Homo sapiens: one gene and its partner. The protein of the gene in region 1 interacts with the protein of each later gene in a biochemical or structural test. Each region holds a gene or a part of one and is shown in the gene's direction. Other genes may lie near its edges.

Region 1 (7,081 bases):
GAGACCCCGTCTCAAAAAAAAAAAAGACTGAGTTGATTATTAGTCCAAGCAGGTGAATTAAGTCACCTCTATGTCCCATGTTGGCTGACACTTGGAATCCCCAGGTCCTCAGCAGGCCAGGGACGGTGGTCACCGGAGTGCCCCTGAGCTCTGTGCTGCAAGGCGGCCATCGACCACCTTTGGTGCCGTTGCTGGAATCCCTTCTCACGTCTCCCTGGAGCCAGCACTTTATTAAGCGCTCCAGCAGCTTCCCTGGCCACTCCTGGTTCTGGATATTAGTTGCGTTTTCCAGGGCAGCGCAAGTTTCTCCCCTGAAATCCAAGACTTCCTCGGCCACCAGAGGCCCCAACAGTTCCATGTCCCTGCCTGGACAGACGAGTCCTTGAATCTCCCAGAGCAGCCAGGCCCAGCATTGTCAGGCGCCCCTGAACGCAGCCCCTGGAACCCCACTGCTGCCACTCCAGCCGCGCTGCCCTGTCAGTCCGATTTCTTCCAGAAGCCTCTGTGAGCATTTGACTTTCTCTCAAGCAGCAGGGGCCCAGGAGCCCGGATTCCTCTCCTAGAGAACAAAATCTGTTCAGATTCGTTTGCTCCACTTTGCTTTGCATGTGTCTCCCAACCACAGATGCCAGGTGACCTCAGAGGCCCTGCCGGAGCCAAGGGCACATCAGAGGGCTGAGCCCACTGTAGACACCCCCTCGGCCTCCCGACCAAGGATGCCAGGTCATCTCGGAGGCCCTGCCGGAGCCGAGGGCACATCAGAGGGCTGAGCCCACTGTAGACACCCCCTCGGCCTCCCGACCAAGGATGCCAGGTCATCTCGGAGGCCCTGCCAGAGCCGAGGGCACATCAGAGGGCTGAGCCCACTGTAGACACCCCCTCGGCCTTCCGACCAAGGATGCCAGGTCATCTCGGAGGCCCTGCTGGAGCCCAGAGCACATTGGAGGGCTGAGCCCACTGCAGACACCCCCTCGGCCTCCCAACCACGGATGCCAGGTGGTCTCGGAAGCCCTGCTGGAGCCCAGAGCACATTGGAGGGCTGAGCCCACTGCAGACACCCCCTCGGCCTCCCGTGGCCTGAGTGACCCTCCCGTGGGGTCAATCAGAAAAGGGAAAATCCCATCAGCCAGGAACAAGGTGAGGGGGCGAGAGGTGGCCAAGGCCAGTGCTCGGGGAAGGTGGGCTCTGGGAGGGAGAAGCAGGAGGCTGAGCCCCAGGCAGCCCCCTGCCCCACGTAGGGATTGTGGAGCTCAGGTTCAGAGAGGGCAATTAGGACCCCAGCACCGCACAGCTGTGTAGGGGCCGGGCCGCAGTCAGAGCCCACATCTTCTAAGCCCCAAACGCTCACAGAACACACTCCCCTACTTCTCACGTAAGTTACCGTCTGCACGTTGCAAACGTCCCAGAGGTGCACAGGTCATCCGTGCACAGCTTTGCATTTCTGCAAGGTGAGCGCCCCCAGGACCAGGCCCAGGTCCTCAGCAGCTCCGGAAGCCACTCAGCCCGACACAGCCTGGACAGAAGGGCTTTGCCATCATCCGCTTCGCCTTTTTTCCTGCCACGGTGGCCTGGGCTGGGCAGGGCGGTCCTCAGGACTCTCTCCAGTGCTGCGTCCAGCTTAAATGCAGGTTGCAGGAGACACGTTTCCAGCGATGGACCCAGTTCGGGCACCCAGAGCCGCTGCCCTAAGTAACAGTGTCCGCCGGGCCCGCAGCTGTCCAGGGCACAGCTGTCCAAGGTGGCAGATGGCAGACGTCCGCCTTGCAAAACGCTCCTCCTGCTGGGTCAGCCCCGACACAGTCAGCGAAAGGAATGGTGGGAGACGCTTGAGCCGCAGGGTGAAGGAGCCATCTTCGTCCTTGCCAGGAGCCACACTCTTGCCTGTCTGCGCTCTCCGGGAGGCCAACCGTGATGCCATTTCCTGGTGACTGGAGGAGGCAGGATCTCTCCTGGGTTTGTCCGCTACCCTGGCTTTCTCCTTGCTGTTTGTGTCTTTTATTATTACTAAAATGGAAAAGGACTCACGCTCCTTCCTCCCAGAAAGCCCCCACTCCAAGTGCAGGGCAGCCTTCGTTACCTGGACAGCTGCCTCCCGTGGCTTCTTTGTGTAATTCCCAGCCCGTGATGCCGGCGTTGCTGGGACCCCCGCTTCCCGGGCGAGGGGCTGGGCACAGAGCAGGGAGGCACTTGCCTGAGGTCACACAGCTCCAAGCCCTCCTAACCCCGCCCGGGAGGCCCCTTTAATACCCGATTTGGATCTGCAAAGAGAAATGGCTGTGGGCCCGAGAAATGCCTTTCTCTTTTAACACGATACCATCTGAAACCGGCTTAGGCGAGGACGGGAGGCTGTTAACAGCAGACGAATTTTAAGCCTCCAGCCAATGAGCGCTCAGATGAAGATTTTCCTCCTGAAATGGAGCTCCTGCCCCGGTGGGGGCTGCCTCGTCCGACTGTGGGCTGCCGACTAATCTGTATCAGCACGAGACAGGATTGCAGCTGGTCTTTCCTTGATCGTTCGTTCTTACAATAATGACCCAGCGTTGGCAGTGGGGTGAGGGGGCGCGGGAAGGAGGGGGCAGGCAGGTGATCGGGGCGTTGGAACCAGACCAGCCGGGACCTGCCGGGTGCGTGGGGTGTGGTGGGGGCCAGGTCGGCCTGGCACCCACCCCGTTTCCTCTCCGAACCTCAGCTTGTTCAGCTAAGAAAGGGCAGCCGGGACCGGCCACCCTCCTGTTCACTCCGCTGGGAAGCGCCCTGCCGAACCTGCCTTCTGATCCCACGGGGAGCCTGCCCTGCAGCCAGGAGAGACCCCTGGAATCACTCAGCCTGGCTGCATAGGAATGCTGGGACTGGGGGAGCTGTGAGTGAGGTTCGGGGCTCCGGCCCCAACAAAACCACGTTCTCACCAGTTCTACAGCCCCAGGCTTTCCAGAGTTTCTCCACAAACAAATAAAGCAAGAAAAACTAGATTTAATCAGCAAATAAATACAGGAATAGCGCCGTCGGCCGGGCCTCCAGCATCAGAGCAGTGAACCCGCACTGCTAGCGGGCCTGGACAGCGCTTGCATTTTTCTGATTATTCTTTCTTTATTAAGGTATAATTCATGTACCACAAAATTTACCATTTAAAAGCGTACAGTTCCGTGGTTTTTAGTATATCCACAATGGTGTGCAACCATCACCACTGTCTAAATCCAGAATGTCCTGCTGACCCCAAAAAGGAGCCCCGTACCATGAGCAGGCGGTCACCGTTCCTCACCCCGCAGCCCTCGACGAGCAGCGTCCCACCCCCAGTCTATCTGGATTTGCCTGTTCTGGGCGTTTCATATTAAGAGGGTCATACGACGTGTGGCCTCCTCTGTCTGGCCTCCTTCGCGGAGCACAGGGTTCTCGGGTTCAGTGAGGGCTTCATTCCTCTTCTTGTTTCATTTCGTTTCGTGTCATCGCACGGATGGACCATGTTCACCTGGCGTGTCCACTCCTCTCTTGATGGACATTTGGGTGGATTCTCTCTTTTTCGGCTGTGGTGAGCGGTGCTGCTGTGAGCATTCGTGTCTGAGTTTTTGTATAGAAATGTTTTCTCTTCTCTTAGGGGTTTACATGGGAGGGGAGTTCCTGGGTCACGTGGAAACACTGTGTTTAATCAGTTGGGGGCTGCAGACCGTTTCCGCCGTGGCTGTGCCGTGTGCACCCCCCGCCAGCAGCGCACAGAGGTGGCGGTTCCCCCGTCCCAGCCGGCAGCTGCTCTTTTGATGGAAGCCATCCCAGCAGACAGGAGATGGTGCCTCACCGTGGCTTTGATTTGCATCTCCCCGGTGACTCACGATGGCGCCCGTCTCTTCTCATGCTTGTCGGCCATCAGGGTCGTCTTTGGAGAATCAGCTGTTCAAGCCCTCTGCCCATTTATTAGTTTTTTTTGTCTTTTTGTGATTGAGTGATGAGAGTTCTTCATACACTCTAAATGCTAGATCCTCAGATGTGCGGTTTGCAAACGTTTTCTACCATTCTGTGGATTGTATCTTCACTTTCTTGACAATATGAATGCATTTTTTAAAAGACTAAATGTTGGCCCTAGGGTTTCCATAGACCAGCCCCTGATTTTCGAGGGTTCAGGCCGGGCTCTGCCTCTGGGGAGCTGTGTGGCCTCGGGACGTCAGCTCTGTGGGTTCATTTTTCTGTACCGTGGGGTGGAGGTGTTTGCTGGGATTGATGGGGAACTGTGGGTGAGTCCTGCCCATGAGAAGCACCAGGCAGAGCCCGGCCCGGCCTTGGGGGCCGTGAGACCACAGGTGAGGACGCAGCCCTGTGCGGCCCTGGTAACCCGCAGCCTGTCCCTCCCCAGCCAACAACATCTGCTTCTACGGCGAGTGTTCCTACTACTGCTCCACGGAGCACGCCCTGTGCGGGAAGCCAGACCAGATCGAGGGCTCGCTGGCGGCCTTCCTGCCCGACCTGTCCCTGGCCAAGAGGAAGACCTGGCGGAACCCTTGGCGGCGTTCCTACCACAAGCGCAAGAAGGCCGAGTGAGTGCGGGGCCGGGGGGCTGGCGTCCGGCCACCCTACGGCAGAGGGAGCTGGGCCTGGGCGGGCATGGGAGGGTCGGCGCCCACGGGGGTGGCAGAGATGGGTGCAGAGCCTGCTGTGCGATGCTGGCCTGTGTGAGATGACCGCTTCCTGATGAGACGGTGGCAGAGGGCGTCCTTACTCCAGTATTTCCATGTGCTTCCCTGACCCGGGCCGGCCTGCCCACCAGGTCCCTCGAATCGGGGCCTCTCAGCGTTTGAGCTCTGCTCTCGCCCCGTCCCTCTCCTCACTCCTGCGGGAGAAACGGCCCCTGTTCTTTCCGCCCCACGTTGTCCTCGTGAGTGTGTAGTCCAGGTCCTGTTTCCCCACAGAGACTCTGCAAAAAACACGGGGCCCAGAGGTGAAGGCAGCTCCAGGTGGGGTCACCCCGAGGCAGGGCAGAGCGGCTCCGTCCCCTCCCACACCCGTGCTCCCGCTAATGCAGCCTCAGCGCCGCAGCCCGGGCGGGTCCATCTGCAGACGCCAAGGTCCCTGCCGCAGTGTTTCTCTTCTGCTCCTCATGGCACGCGCCGGGCTCCCCAGAATCTGGCCTGGGCCCCCCGTCTCACGCTGGCTCCCCGCAGGTGGGAGGTGGACCCTGACTACTGCGAGGAGGTGAAGCAGACACCGCCCTACGACAGCAGCCACCGCATCCTGGACGTCATGGACATGACGATCTTCGACTTCCTCATGGGTACGTCCCGCAGGGGCACGGGGTCCCCGTGTCACTCGCCTTGCGTGGAGCGGATGCACGCAGGGCTCTGCAGGGCACACTCCGTGGCACGGCCCGGCTGCGGTCCTGTGGCCTGTGAAGGGGCCAGATTGCTTAGAGGTCACGCTGGCAGGAGGAGACGCCGCTCTGCAGAGCACAGAGGCCTCTGAGCTACGTGGCCCGGCTCCCCACGAGCTGTGACACTTTCTGCCTCTCTCCGCAGGAAACATGGACCGTCACCACTACGAGACTTTTGAGAAGTTTGGGAATGAAACGTTCATCATCCACTTAGACAATGGAAGAGGGTGAGCCTGTCCTCGCCCCTGCACACCCAGGGAAGGGCCGGCCACCTCCCAGCTACCTGCAGCCCACCTGAGACCCTGGGGACGGGGGGAGCAGACCCTCCAGTGGAGGGATGGGAATGTCGCAAAGGCCCATCTCAGAGCCAGATGCAGAGGGCGGCCCCAGGCCCCAACCAGGAGGGAGGGCCGCCCCGGGAGTGGGACCTCCGAGGCACAGGAATGCTGCAGACCAAGTCCCGGCAGAGCTGGTGTTACCTGGGAAACGGAGGCCAGGAGAGGCTGCTGGTAGGAAGAGCAGGACCGTGCAGAATAGATGGGCCTCTGCCTGCACGCGGTACCTGGAGCCAGCCAGCGGGGGATAGGCGGCCTCTGCGGCCGCTGCTGGCCTGCCACGGGGGGTCTTGGGCGGCGCTGTGAGACCCTGGTTACCAGGGAGGGTGACCCCTAATAAGCAAAGCATGGAGGCGAGTAACTCGGGCAGGAGGACGTCCATTCCCAGGCTCGGAGGCCTCAGAGAGATGGACTTTGGGCACTTCAATAGCTAAACTGTGGGCTGACGCTCCCTGGAGCCATCTCAACTCGGCTGCCCAGGACCCTTCCCCAGGCCAGAGGCCAGGACCCCACATACAGGGCTGGGGACAGGCGGGGTGGACCCACTGCCTGGGGTGCTGGAGATGGGCAGGGTGGACCCACTGCCCGGGGTGCTGGAGATGGGCTGGGTGGACCCACTGCCCGGGGTGCTGGAGATGGGCAGGGTGGACCCACTGCCTGGGGTGCTGGAGATGGGGCTGGGTGGACCCACTGCCCAGGATGCTGGAGATGGGCTGGGTGGACACACTGCCTGGGGTGCTGGAGATGCCCGGGGTGGACCCACTGCCTGAGGTGCTGGAGATAGGCAGTGTGGACCCACTGCCTGGGGTGCTGGAGATGGGGCTGGGTGGACCCACTGCCCGGGTGCTGGAGATAGGCAGTGTGGACCCACTGCCTGGGGTGCTGGAGATGGGGCTGGGTGGACCCACTGCCCGGGGTGTTGGAGATAGGCGGGGTGGACCCACTGACTGGGGTGCTGGAGATAGGCAGGGTGGACCCACTGCCTGAGGTGCTGGAGATAGGCAGGGTGGACCCACTGACTGGGGTGCTGGAGATGGGTGGGGTGGACCCACTGCCTGAGGTGCTGGAGATAGGCAGGGTGGACCCACTGCCTGGGGTGCTGGAGATGGGTGGGATGGACCCACTGCCCGGGGTGCTGGAGATGGGCAGGGTGGACCCACTGCCTGAGGTGCTGGAGATGGGCAGGGTGGACCCACTGCCCGGGATGCTGGAGATGGGTGGGGTGGACCCACTGCCTGGGGTGCTGGAGATGGGTGGGATGGACCCACTGCCTGGGGTGCTGGAGATGGGTGGGATGGACCCACTGCCCGGGGTGCTGGAGATGGGCTGGGTGGACCCACTGCCTGGGGTGTCGGGTACAGGCAGGTGGACCCATGGCCCAGCTCCCAGCCCA
Region 2 (7,631 bases), on another chromosome or scaffold:
TGAATCAACATGTTGCAGTCGGAGCCAGGACTCATACCACCCCAAGAGGCAGGAGGCAGCGCAGCCAGAAGGGCACTGAGGAGCCATGGCCACAGCTCCCTGTGGCTCCCAGCAGCGGGACCAGATGCAAACTTCCCACCCCACCACATGTCTGGGCTTCCTATACCCTGTTCAGTCTTTACTGAGTCAGAAGCTGTTTTAAGAGCTGAGCACACCCATTTTACAGCAGAGCTTCTTACGGAAAAGCGTGCTGCTGTCCTGGACCCTTTGTCCATCCTGGGCCATTGGGCCAGCTCCAGCCTCATCCTTGAATGGTGGGTGTACATCGCTGGGGTCCTTGCTAGATTATATTAGGGCCTCCACACACTTTAGTTGCTCTCCGTTTGCACAATGATTTCTATATCATTAGTACCTCTTTGTCCACTTGCCTAATTATTTCCTTAGGATAAATTCCTAAGAAATCAAATAGCTAGGTCAGTATATAGCACATTTTCACAGTTTGCTACTGACTAGAGATATTAAAGGTACAAAAACAGCCAGAATTAGATGTAGAGTCGCAAGGGAGTTTTGTTACTAAGACGTCATTTCTAATCAGGGAGAAAAAATGAGTTACGGAATAAACGGTATTGGAACAATAGGCTAGCCTTCTGGAGAAAAATAACCTCACTCCTTATACAAAAGTAAATCCCAGTGGAAGCCAAGATATTAAAAAAAGATTTAAAAAAGGAGGACAATTTTTATATGATCTTGATAAGGAGGAGGCCTTTCTAAGCACAGTACAAAATCAAGAAGTCATGAAATAAAAGGCTGATAAGTTTGACTCCATGAAAATTAAAATTTTCTATGGAAAAAAATACAATAAAGTCAAAAATCAATCAACAAACTGGAAAATAGATTTGCAACATACATAAGAGACAGCAGGCTAATTTTGGTATTATACATAAAAAGCTATTACAAATCATCAAACAAAAGCTCCACAGCCAAAATGAAAAAATGAAGAGACAGTTCAAAGACAAACAAATGTAGATAATTGTTTAACTTAAGGAAAGGTCAAAATATTTGGCAACTCTGTGTTGGCCTGGGTGTGACCATGAGCGGTAGTTGCCAGTGGTATTCACAAATATACCCTTTCTCCTCCTTCTGGGCACTTGGTGTGATTGCAGTTTCCTACATTTGACCTTAGGTGTGGTCATGTGTCTCGCTTAGGAGAAGGAAATGTGAACGGAAGTGTTGTGGGTCACTTTTGTGTGGAAGCTGCATGGAGTCACCTCTTTGCTTTCCGTCAGCCTCAGTGTTCAGCAATGTTCTGAATGATGGTTGCTTTATCAGTCTGGTTCTGGGGTGAGGGTAATGAAGTAGTGAAGCAAAGTCCTTGATGGACATGTGAGGTGAGACAGAAATAAACCTTTGACATTTCAAGCCCCTGAGATTTGGGGCGTGCATGTGCTGGAAGCAGAACCTAGCCTATTCTGATGGATTCCTCCAGCACTGCTCGTGGGAAGACATCATCAATATAGAGCATTCATGTGCCCTTTATCTCGAAATTCCACTTCCAGGAATTTATGAAACAGATACTCTCACATGTGCAAACAGCTATGGATAAGGACAGACATGGCAACTTGGATTGCAATAGCAAAAGACAGAAACAACCAACGGAAACACCAACCAATAGGAAATTGGCTAAAGACATTGTGAAACATACATAGAATGAAATAATCTGCAACCAGAAAAATAAGGCAGTAGATGTATGTGTACCAGTGTGGTTTTTATTCCGAGATTAGGGCTAGGTTAAGACGTCAGATTAAGTTGTCCCTCTCCACCCCACCAATATAAATAAAAAGTTAAAAGTAAATCATAAACTATTTTTACAATTTTAAAAAGTGGGTTAAAGAGCCCATCCAAGTAGTTTTATAAAAGTAGACTATCTCCGAAAAGATACCCAATAAATAGGTATATTACTTTCCTGGGGCTGTTATAACAAGTTTCTACAAATTTGCTGGCTTCAAATAACAAAAACGTATTCTCTTGCAGTTATGGAAGCCAGAAGTATGGAATGAAGGGTTGCAGGGTGGTGCCCTCTCCCAAAGCTCTAGGGGAGGAACATTCCTTGCTTCTTCCAGCTCCTTTGGGGGCTCCTGGCATTCCTTGGCTTATGTCGGCACAGCTCTAATCGGCGCCTCCATTGTTACATAGGTGTTTCTGTGTCTCAAGTATCTCTCCCCTTTCTCTTCTGATATCAGTCATTGGATTTAGGGACCATCCTAAACCCAGGATAATCTCCTCATGAGATCCTTAGGTCAATTACATCTGCAAAGATCTCATTTCCAAATAAGGTCACATTCAAAAGTACCAGGGGTTAGTCTTAGACTTATCTTTTTGGGGGACACGATTCAACCCACTACCGTGGGTAACAGTGGTTTTCCCTCAGAAGGTGGTGGTTCAGGAGTGGGAGGAAGATGAACTTTTCACTGTATATCCTTTCAAACTATTCACGTTTTAAAAAAAACATTTTCATGTAAATTTAAAAAAATTGAACATTCACACAAAAAGATGCCCCCTCCCTTGCAAAAAAGAGTATGCCCGTTCAAAATGTTGAAATGTACACTCACAGCAATGGTGGCTGCAGACTCCAAGTTTCTGAGGTTGGAGAAGGTAGCCAGGGAGCATAAAAGTGAGTTCTATCTACTCATTCAGTCTATGAGGGGAAGGCAATGGCTAGAAAAGCATTTTGAGGGACAGTAAAAGTGGCATTTTTAGAGGGAGGAAGCCTTGAGGATGCTTGTGGGGTGAAGGGAAAGAATAACTCAGGAAGAGGCATTTAGGGATAAGAGGAGGAGAGGAGATAGTGGAGGTAGGTGATCCCTGCGGAGGCCAGATTGGGGCAGGGGAGTGTCAGCTGAGTATAAGAGGATGGTCCCCTCTGCCCTGAAGGAGGAAGGCAGGAGGGGAAAAGGATGGGTGTTGACCCAGAAAGCACTTGTGGTGGAGGGGAGGCCCCAGAAGAGGCTTCTGACTTACCCTGATTGCTGGTACCTCTCAGGGGAGCTGGCTGCTTATTTGCTGGCCAGGGTGTGGGGGAACCCATTTGAGAAGAGGGAGAAGGTGACACAATTCCTTTGGGCAACTTATGGGAGGGGTAATTGGTGAGGGATGAAAGCCCTGCCAAGTGGCAGGAGGCCCAGCTGGGGCTGCCCCTCATAAGAGTGCAGTGGAGGATATGGGATGAGAAGTGACTGCCCCTCTGGTTCCATCTGTCGCAGAGCCCAGGGTGCTTCCTTCCTCCCCCACCTCCCTCAGAACACACCCACTGCATGCTGGACAGCAGCCCCCTTCCTGGGCCTGGGGACATCCATGTCCCTCTGTGCACAGGCTTCATCATTCTCTGGGTGCACGGTAACGACCCCGGTAGGTGAGAGGCCAAGGTCCCAAAGGGGAGCAGCAGGGAAAGTTAGCTCCCATCTATTCTTGCTCCAGGGGAGGCCTTTGATGAGGAAGCTGCCAAAAGCACATTGCAAATACAATTCCAATTACAGGCAACAGGAAGGAGAACCACCTCTGCCACCTCTGTCAGCAAACCATGAGCTCCTACTCTGTGCTGCGATGGCGGGCTCGATGGGGATAACTCTGACCTTACCTCATGGAGTCACTGTCAACCCACTGGTTGCACTGTCTTTGTGCACTGGCTCTCTGGAGTGAGGTCTTTGCAAACAAAGTGGAAAGAGCATCAACTTTGGACTCCAGCACCTAGATTCAGAGCAGGCCATTTCACTCGGAATCTGCTGTGCATCTGCAAGGGAGGATCATAAATTCGCCTTTGTTTCTTCCCAGTATCGACAGCCCTTCCAGAAAGAGCAAGCCTCATGTCATGCCACATGTACAATCTGAGGCCAGGAGCTCTCTTTCCCCTTTTCATCCTCCTGCCTGGTACACAATAGGTGTTTACTGGATGCTTGTCCAGTTGATTTCTTGAACATGGTGTGTAAAAGGAATCTTTGCAAATTGAATCTTCTGGAAAGCTGAGCTTGTGCCTACCATAGAATTCTGAATGTACCTATATGACGTCTTTGCAAACTTAAAACCTGAATCTTTGTAGTATAAATCCCTTGAAATGCATGTAGGCTGGACATCAAAAGCAAGCAATCTCTTCAAGGAGCAGCTAGTTGGTAAGGTCAGTGTGCAGGGTGCATAAAGGGCAGAGGCCGGAGGGGGTCCAGGCTAAGTTTAGAAGGCTGCCAGGTTAAGGCCAGTGGAAAGAATTCGGTGGGCAGCGAGGAGTCCACAGTAGGATTGATTCAGAAGTCTCACTGGTCAGCAGGAGACAAGGTGGACCCAGGAAACACTGAAAAGGTGGGCCCGGCAGAACTTGGAGTCTGGCATCCCACGCAGGGTGAGAGGCGGGAGAGGAGGAGCCCCTAGGGCGCCGGCCTGCCTTCCAGCCCAGTTAGGATTTGGGAGTTTTTTCTTCCCTCTGCGCGTAATCTGACGCTGTTTGGGGAGGGCGAGGCCGAAACCTGATCCTCCAGTCCGGGGGTTCCGTTAATGTTTAATCAGATAGGATCGTCCGATGGGGCTCTGGTGGCGTGATCTGCGCGCCCCAGGCGTCAAGCACCCACACCCTAGAAGGTTTCCGCAGCGACGTCGAGGCGCTCATGGTTGCAGGCGGGCGCCGCCGTTCAGTTCAGGGTCTGAGCCTGGAGGAGTGAGCCAGGCAGTGAGACTGGCTCGGGCGGGCCGGGACGCGTCGTTGCAGCAGCGGCTCCCAGCTCCCAGCCAGGATTCCGCGCGCCCCTTCACGCGCCCTGCTCCTGAACTTCAGCTCCTGCACAGTCCTCCCCACCGCAAGGCTCAAGGCGCCGCCGGCGTGGACCGCGCACGGCCTCTAGGTCTCCTCGCCAGGACAGCAACCTCTCCCCTGGCCCTCATGGGCACCGTCAGCTCCAGGCGGTCCTGGTGGCCGCTGCCACTGCTGCTGCTGCTGCTGCTGCTCCTGGGTCCCGCGGGCGCCCGTGCGCAGGAGGACGAGGACGGCGACTACGAGGAGCTGGTGCTAGCCTTGCGTTCCGAGGAGGACGGCCTGGCCGAAGCACCCGAGCACGGAACCACAGCCACCTTCCACCGCTGCGCCAAGGTGCGGGTGTAGGGATGGGAGGCCGGGGCGAACCCGCAGCCGGGACGGTGCGGTGCTGTTTCCTCTCGGGCCTCAGTTTCCCCCCATGTAAGAGAGGAAGTGGAGTGCAGGTCGCCGAGGGCTCTTCGCTTGGCACGATCTTGGGGACTGCAGGCAAGGCGGCGGGGGAGGACGGGTAGTGGGGAGCACGGTGGAGAGCGGGGACGGCCGGCTCTTTGGGGACTTGCTGGGGCGTGCGGCTGCGCTATTCAGTGGGAAGGTTCGCGGGGTTGGGAGACCCGGAGGCCGAGGAAGGGCGAGCAGAGCACTGCCAGGATATCCTGCCCAGATTTCCCAGTTTCTGCCTCGCCGCGGCACAGGTGGGTGAAGGAGTGAATGCCTGGAACGTACTGGGAACTGCACCAGGCACAGAGAAAGCGGGCTTGCCATTATAGTGGGTTCCGATTTGGTTTGGAAAACATGGGCAGCGGAGGGTGGAGGGCCTGGAGAGAAGGCCCTACCCGAGACAGGGGCGGGGTGGGAAGGACGGCAGATGCTGGGAGCACGAGGCAATTTCTTTATGACACAGAACTCATGCTCTAGTATTCCATCTGTTTCAGCCGAAGAAAAGAACCAGCTGAAGGGGCAGGGGAGAAGGGGCGGAGGTATTCTCGAGGCCCATTGGCGTCCTTTAGGACTCAGGCAGGGAAGGGCCCTTGGTGCTCTGGAGCCGGAGGTGGTGCGCCTGGTACTGGGACCCCGGAGCTGAGCCCGGCGCCTCAGCCCACCTGGCTGTCTGCCGACCGTGTGCGGGGCGAGTTTGCTCAACAACTCTGCCAGCTTCTGGCCCTCAGGCTGTGGGAAGCTTCTTCCCGGGGCGAGACCACTAGCTTTTTCTAAGTATTACCAGCCCAGGACTTGGCTGAGGTTCTGTGTCCCCCAGCTTGGAGTCAGATGTGGGGTTGAATCTTGGCTTCCTCTCACTAGCTGTGGTGCTTGACAAGTCACTTATCCTTGAGCCTCCATTGCCTAATCTTTAAAAGGGAGGTGACAATCGTCCCTACGGCTCAGTGGCAGCAGATGGGGAGATGAAGGGAAAGTTCTGTTGACCATGAGTGAACTTACAATGCAAGCCCCGGGGGGATCACTTGCAGTTTTGTCCCTGTCTGCAGTGTGACCTGTTGGTGACATTGTCTTTGCTCCAAACCACAGCTCCTGGGGCAGAGGGGAAAATTCTGCCACTCACAGCTGCCTGCCCACGCTTCTGTCTGAGTGTGCTGGGTGGCAGGATGGCAAGTCCTTACTCAGCTCAGTATAGCCCTCTTCCTTGTTCCCTGAGCCTTTGACTTTCTCGAGGGATGTTGTGGGGTTGTGGCCAGGATAAGAAAGGGCATTTCAAGTTACCACTGCTCCAAAACAACTGTTCTGGAAATAGTGAGTACCCCATCCTGAGAGGTGAGTAAGCAGAGGCTGTATGACCACCTGAACCAAGCCCTTGAGGATGTTTCTTCTCTGGTGGAAGTTTGGAACAGGAGCCTCCTCAAGTTCATTTATTCATTCATTCAATGGTTATTTTGTGGGAATCGAATTTAGAATGAAAATATTTTTTGGCAAGCAGAAAATAATTTTTAGACCAATCCTTTTCTTTTAGTCATGAGAAACTGAGGCCCAGAGAGAGGAGGTCACCCCAGGTGCATTAGAACTGGGTTTCCAGAACTGACACTCCACTGCACAGAGTACTCTCCCAATTCATTCAATTTTTATTTAGCGGAAGGCATTTTCAGATGGGTCTTTGAAGCATTAGTAGGAGTTCAGCGATGATGGTGTCATGAGAATTTTATTCTAGGATTAGGAGGTACCATGAACAAAGATACAGAGCTGGGAAAACCAGAGGTGGAAGATAAGGAGCACATGTCCACAGTTCTTTTTCTTTTTTTTTTGAGATGGAGTTTCGCTCTTGTTGCCCAGGCTGGAGTGCAATGGTGCAGTCTCAGCTCACTGCAACATCTGTCTCCCGGGTTCAAGTGGTTCTCCTGCCTCAGCCTCCCAAGAAGCTGGGATTACAGGTACCTGCCACCACGCCCGGCTAATTTTTGTATTTTTAGTAGAGAAGGGGTTTCACCACGTTGGCCAGGCTAGTCGCAAACTCCTGACCTCCTCAGTGGATCCGAGGAGGTGATCCTCCCGCCTCAGCCTCCCAAAGTGCTCGAATTACAGGTGTGAGCCACCACGCCTGGCCTCCACAGTTCTTTATCCACCGTCTGAAATGTAAAATGTTACGAAAACCAAAAGTTTTTTTTGTGATTTATTTGATGGTAGCACCTGACGTGAACTGACATGAGATTATTTTTAATTTAGTTGTGTGAATATGCATATTCATATATTTTGCTGCATAGATTACAGTATGCAGCTCCAGATTCTTCCAAGCAGACTCTGATTGCCCATTACTGCCTTTCTAAAATCCAAACAAGTTCTGAGGTTCAAAACCGTTTTGGCCCTAAGGCTTTGGGTAAAGGGGGTGGAC

The links. The genes of interacting proteins can lie anywhere in the genome.
Region 2: of the proteins of FAM20C (region 1) and PCSK9, one has a biochemical effect on the other in vitro, tested with the Homo sapiens proteins (one study listed by IntAct).

Annotation. Positions count from the first base shown.
Region 1 is NC_000007.14:251,507-258,587, forward strand, and holds part of FAM20C (extracellular serine/threonine protein kinase FAM20C precursor), read left to right. Parts: intron 1-625; exon of another isoform or gene 626-1,137; intron 1,138-4,342; coding exon 4,343-4,523; intron 4,524-5,147; coding exon 5,148-5,257; intron 5,258-5,498; coding exon 5,499-5,580; intron 5,581-7,081. UniProt on the Homo sapiens protein: Golgi serine/threonine protein kinase that phosphorylates secretory pathway proteins within Ser-x-Glu/pSer motifs and plays a key role in biomineralization of bones and teeth.
Region 2 is NC_000001.11:55,034,917-55,042,547, forward strand, and holds the start of PCSK9 (proprotein convertase subtilisin/kexin type 9 isoform 1 preproprotein), read left to right. Parts: upstream 1-4,631; 5' UTR 4,632-4,921; coding exon 4,922-5,128; exon of another isoform or gene 5,129-5,487; intron 5,488-7,050; coding exon of another isoform or gene 7,051-7,173; intron 7,174-7,631.